Regions from separate parts of the Homo sapiens genome. Here region 2 is linked to region 1. Evidence: fine-mapped expression QTL. Tissue or cell type: whole blood. Region 1 holds a variant in brackets; the other region holds the start of a gene. All regions are shown on one strand. Distances are from middle to middle.

Region 1 (2,755 bases):
CACAAGTGAATTAAATTTGAGCAGGGCACTTACTTGCCTTCTCTGGGCTTCAGTTTCCTCAAGGAGAACAATCATATCCATCTCCACCATGGGAAGCAAACGAGTTAGTATATGTAAAGCCTGGAACATAGTGAGCACTATGTAAGTGTCATCAATTATTTATTTTTCCCAGGGAAGGGGAGGGTGGAATGGAGGAGTCTCACTCTGTCACCCAGGCTGGAGTGCAGTGGCATGATCGTGGCTCACTGCAGGCTTGACTGCCTGGGCTCAAGCAATCCTCCCACCTCAGCCTTCTGAGTAGCTGGGACTACAGGTGTGCACCACCACACCTGGCTAATTTGTTTACTTTTTGTAGAGATAGGGGTTTCATTATGTTGCCCAGGCTGGTCTCAAACTCCTGGACTCAAGCAATCCTCCCGCCTTGGCCTCCCAAAGTGCATCATTTGTTATTTTTAGGTAGATGCATAAGCAGATCATCAAAACATTAGGTGGTTAGTGCAGAATAAGGCAATGTAGATCCAGGGCATCCTGGGAGCACTGGAGAGGAGCCCCAACGTGCCAGGTACAGCCCAGCCAGGGAAGAGAGTCAGGACACTGGGCATAGATGCCCTCCCTGCGTCACCTAACCCTGCATCCCTGGAACCCACTGGCCACCCCCAAGGATGTTGCCTTTCTGAAGTGCTGGAGCAAGTGGAGAGGGGCAGAAGAAATGCATGTGCCCCACCTCCCTGCGGACAAGAGGGGAGAGAGGGTACACAGGTGGCCACAGGCAGGCAGAATAGGGCCTGCTTTCATGGGCCACCTCCTCCCAGGACCCTGGCTCTCCAAAGTGCCTGCCACCCTGTCTGGTGATAGAAATGCTGGGGAGTTGGGAGGAGGGCGGGTGCCCTAACACTCAATCCACATGGAGCAGAATGAAGGGGCAACTCCCCTTTCATGGAGTTCTTTCCTAGACCCTAGAGTTCAAGAGTTCAGGACTCCTGTTCACAGGAGCACACTATCTTTCCACCACTCTCAGCAGGGAGTATCACTGCCCCCACCTCTTAGATGAGTACATGGAGGCTGAGAAGGGACACTGATCTTTCTCAGTCACTCAGTTCAGAAGTGGCAGCGGAAAGTCAGCATCTGGGCTGGCTGCAAAGTGGCCACTCTTCTTCTCCTTCCCCGTTCTGCTTCTCCCAATTTGGGGTGCCCAGGAAAGCCTATTATGTAGGGAGGGCAGGGCTGTGAGACTCAGGGGAGGTGGGGGAGTGAGAGGCAGATATTGCTGTGTAAAATGACCTGGATCTGTGGTGAGGGCTCCAGGATTGGTGGAGAGAGCAGGGTACAGAACTGGGTTGGGGGGTTACAGCCAGGAAGAGATGGAACCACAGGGAGGAAGCCCCGCCTGCCCCCCATCCTCATCACAATAGGCATCGTGGCAAACAGAAGGAGGAAGGGGCAAGGCCCCAACCCCTCCTCCACAGTATCACCTGGCCAGGCAGCCCCATTCCCAGCCCTGCGCCCACAGGGACCAGGATGTGGGCAACTAGGGATAGACAAGCCCTGACGTAGACAACTCTGCGACCCCCATGCCTGGCCTCCTTAGCCACCAGCCAAATACTCTTTGTGGTTTGGGCACCGGCCAAGCGCCCACACCCCAGCTCACGGGACCACAGCTTCCCTGTTGCATCAGGTTACTGAGCGC[G/T]TGCACACGCCCCAGAGCCTGTTACACAACTGTGGTGCGCGTGCGCAGCACCCACACACCCTGGGTGGCTCCACAGTCCCACAGAAGAAACCGCAGCCTTGCCTGGAGTGCACAGGGCCCGCTCCAGACTCTTGGCATTGAGAGCTGGAGATGGGGGTTAGGGGGAGGAGGGTGCCTGGTCTGGGGCCAGGATCTGTGAGCTCCACCACTGGCTCATTGTGAAACACCAGTAAGTCATGGCCCCTCTCTGAGCCTGTTTCCCCACCTAGAAAGGAAGCTCACCTTCCACCCTGATGATCTACATACCCAATTGCCCTCTGCGCCCCTCAACACCCTCCAAACCACCACCACCATCTCCCTTCCTGTAGGAATGTCAGCAAGAGAGGGAAGCAAGAATCTGCACAGAGAGGAGACGGAGGGGTGGATAAGATGACCTCTAAAAGGGCCCTTTCCTCTTGGGGCTTCTCCCCAGTAGAAGTGGGTGTGCCTTGAGGGGAGCTCCATCATCACCCTTTCTCCAGGAAGACCGAGGACAGTGGCCAGAGCTCTTTTGAGAAGAGACTAAGGAGCAGGAGGCAGGGGATGGGTAACTTTCTTCTGGAGGCAGGGGATGGGTAACTTTCTTCTTTGTAGTTTTTTCCCCCACTTTTCTACAACAGACATGTGTCACACACTACTTGCAATGGGTGGAGGAGGGAGTGTGTTGGGAGGGCAAATGCTCTTGGGGAAGGTTAATGTATCAAGCACACCCCCTTTCCCACCCTTAAGCCAGCATTTCCCTAACTATGTTGTGGCAAACGGGCTCAAATAAGCACAGGAAACCTGAGTTAAACACAGTCTAACAGGTTTTCTTGACTGCAGGACTTCTCTGAGCCTCTAACATGCTAATCTGGGCTACAACCCTCAGAGACGAGGGACGAGACAAGGAAACGCATTTAATCTCAGAGCTCTTTATAGGGGAGCATCTCAAGATGCACTTACTAGGCACTGCTGGAACTCAGAGTCCGGTGGCACGCCAGGCCCACACCCCATTGGTGAAGAGCCTCCATGGAGGAGAGACAGCCTAGG
Region 2 (2,755 bases), 44 kb before region 1:
GCGCGCTCGCACGCACGTCCCCAGCCGGGAGAGGCGCTCGCAGCGGCCCGCGGCGCCAGCAGGGCACGACCGCTTACCTTGGCATGGTGGAGGTAGAGCAGCAAGGCAAGGCTCCAATGCACCCAAGACAGCAGAAAGTTCATGGTTTCGGAGGCCCGACCGGGGCCGGCGCGGCTCGCGCTCCCTCTCCGGCTCGGGCTGTGGGGCGGCCCGCTCTCCTCGGCGCCTCGGCGAGCTACTCTTCCTCCCCGGCCCGAGGCCCGGGCCAGGGCCTGGGGAGCGCGCGCGGCTGGAGCACTGTCTGCGCACACCGCCGCCTCACCCGTCCATGAGCCCGGCTTCCGAGCGCCGAGTCGCCACTGCGGCCCCCTCTCCTCTTCCTTCTCTTCTTCCTCCTCCCCCTCCTCCGGCTGCGGCTCCTCCCGGCCCGAGCTAGCACTTCTCGCGGCTCCGCTCGGCTCGGCTTCCCCCGCGCGGACCACGGCTCCTCCGAAGCGAGAACAGCCCAGAAGTTGGACGAAAAGTTTCAGTGCGACGCCGCGAGCCCCGACCCCCTCCACCCCGCCTCCGGGCGCGGGCTCCGGCCCCTGCCCGCGGCTCGCCGCCGCGTCCACTGTCCGCCGCCGGCCGGGGAGGAGGTGGTAGCTGGGGCTGGGGGCGGTGTCTGTCTGTCTGTCCGTCAGCGCGACTGGTCAGCTGCGGGATCCCAAGGGGGAGGGCTCACGCCGCGCTCCGGCGGTCACCCCCAAAAGCAGGTCACTCACTTTGCCCCTGTCGCTTTCGCTGCTCGCACGCCCGCGCGCTCTCTCTGACCCCGTCTCTCTCTTCCTCGACTTCTCTCTGGAGCTCTTGCTACCTCTTTCCTCTTTCTGCTGGTTTCCAAAATCCACAGTGATTTGGGGAAGTAGAGCAATCTCCCCAAGCCGTCGGCCCGATTCAAGTGGGGAATGGCAAGCAAAAATAAATTAAAACGAGAAACAATACAGTTTTAAAAAAAAATGTTTAAGAAAAAAGAAGAGGGATAAAACCCGGATCAATGAATATCAAATTCCAGCACCGAGCGCCCTGGCCGGTGAGTCCGCTGACCGGTCCACCTAACCGCTGCGCCTCCCGACAGAGCGCTGGTGCTAGCCCCCAGCGCCACGACCTCCGAGCTACCCGGCTGCCCCAAGCCTCCGCGATCCTCCCCGCTACCAGCCGACTTTTAAAAAAAAAAGGGGGGGGCGCATGGCTCCGCCCCGCCGGGACCCCGCCCCCGGCCCGCCCCGGGGGGCGGGGACAGGCGAGCCTCAGCCCTTCCACACGCGGCTCGGGCCCGGGCTCTGCGGACGCTCAGTGAAGCCTGGCCCGCAGCCCGCCGCAATGAAGGGGAAGCTCGACCCCCACCAAGGTTCACAGCCTGAAAATTACCCATCCGCCCCCGGAAACTCTGTCCAGAGACACGCGCCCGCGGGGCATTGGCGAGGAGGGAGCAGGAAAGTGAGGTTACGTGCGGACAGGGCCTGAGAGCCGTTCCCTCTTTGCTAGGAATATTGAAGGGGGCAGGGGAAGGCGGAGAGCCGGACAGGGACGGGTGGGGAGAGGGACACACAGATCTATTGGAATCCTGGAGTGACCCCTGGCCTTCTCCCCGCTCCAACGCCCTCAACCCCACACGCACACACTCACTCACCCACACAGACACACACGTCCTCACTCTCGAAGACGCTGCTCGCTCCATTCACCCAGCTTCCCTGTGGTGGCCGAGCGCCCCCTAGTGACTGCCGTCTGCACACCCCGGCTCTGGCTAAAGAGGGAATGGGCTTTGGAAAGGGGGTGGGGGGAGTTTGCTCCTGGACCCCCTATTTCTGACCTCCCAAACAGCTACATATTTGGGACTGGAGTTGCTTCATGTACAGAGAGCCCAGGGCTGGGCACAGGGGCCACAGTGTGTCCCTCTGACAATGTGCCATCTGGAGCCCTCATCTGGCCTGCAGACATCAAAGTGAGCGGCAGCCAACAGGCTGGAGTGACTGGGGTCCTTTGGGAAGTGTCCAGGGATGCTTCCCAGGGGAGAAGAATTTGGCACCAAGTTTGTGGAGCTGAGAACGGGAAGCTGTGTGGTTCCGGGGTTAGTCAGTGACTGGGAGGGAAGAGGACCTGTTGGAGCCCACGTATGCACTGTGGAGTCTGGCAAAACCCAAAGGGGGAGGCAGCTGGGCAGACAGAGGCCCTTGTTCCTGCTGCCCCCCCAACCCCAGATGTTGCCAGGGAACTGAGGCCAGGGGGCTGGTGGGGGCGGGTGGAGGCCAGGGCCTGCGTGATGATTCAAACCTACCCGCCAGCACTAAGGAACGTCTGTAGGCCAGCTGCCCAGAGCTCCCACCAGGCCAGGGGCCAAGGCTTCTATCAGCCCAAGCCCAGACTCATAGCTCATCTTCTGAATAGAAATGGGGGTTTCGTCTCAGCTCCCCCATTCCCTCAGGATCCCTTGGCTACTTCTCCAGGCTCACAGCTTCTCCCCTATCCTTCCCCCAGTCCCCTCCCTTACCTCCAAGCCCCCTTTTCCTCCAACTCTCCACATCTTCCCTAAGTGCTCCCAAAGGCCCCATCCCATTCTTGCATATAGGAAGCAGCTTGGAAAAATTCCTAGCTGGTTTCTGACCTGGCTATTTCCAGGCTGCCCCAGGGAACAAAGTTGGGGCTCTGAGGCCTGTGGGAAGAGTGGGACCAGTCAGTCTGATTATCCACCCAGATCTTGCCAGGGTCTGGCCTA

The links. PIP is the estimated chance that this variant, and not a neighbour inherited with it, causes the effect.
Region 2: it holds the start of VEGFA, and the variant in region 1 is fine-mapped to the expression of VEGFA in whole blood (TOPMed, PIP above 0.99).

Annotation. Positions count from the first base shown.
Region 1 is chr6:43,724,195-43,726,949 of GRCh38, reverse strand. No RefSeq gene overlaps it. Among named protein-coding and RNA genes, the nearest start is that of MRPS18A, 38 kb to the right of the region's middle. RefSeq lists an enhancer at 1,920-2,009. The variant G/T (reference allele first, on the strand shown) is at 1,688.
Region 2 is chr6:43,768,635-43,771,389 of GRCh38, reverse strand. It overlaps VEGFA (vascular endothelial growth factor A), which reads right to left and starts at 1,179. Exons shown (of 8, transcript NM_003376.6): 1 at 78-1,179. The coding sequence starts at 683. RefSeq lists silencers at 1-739, 1,117-1,366 and an enhancer at 1-754.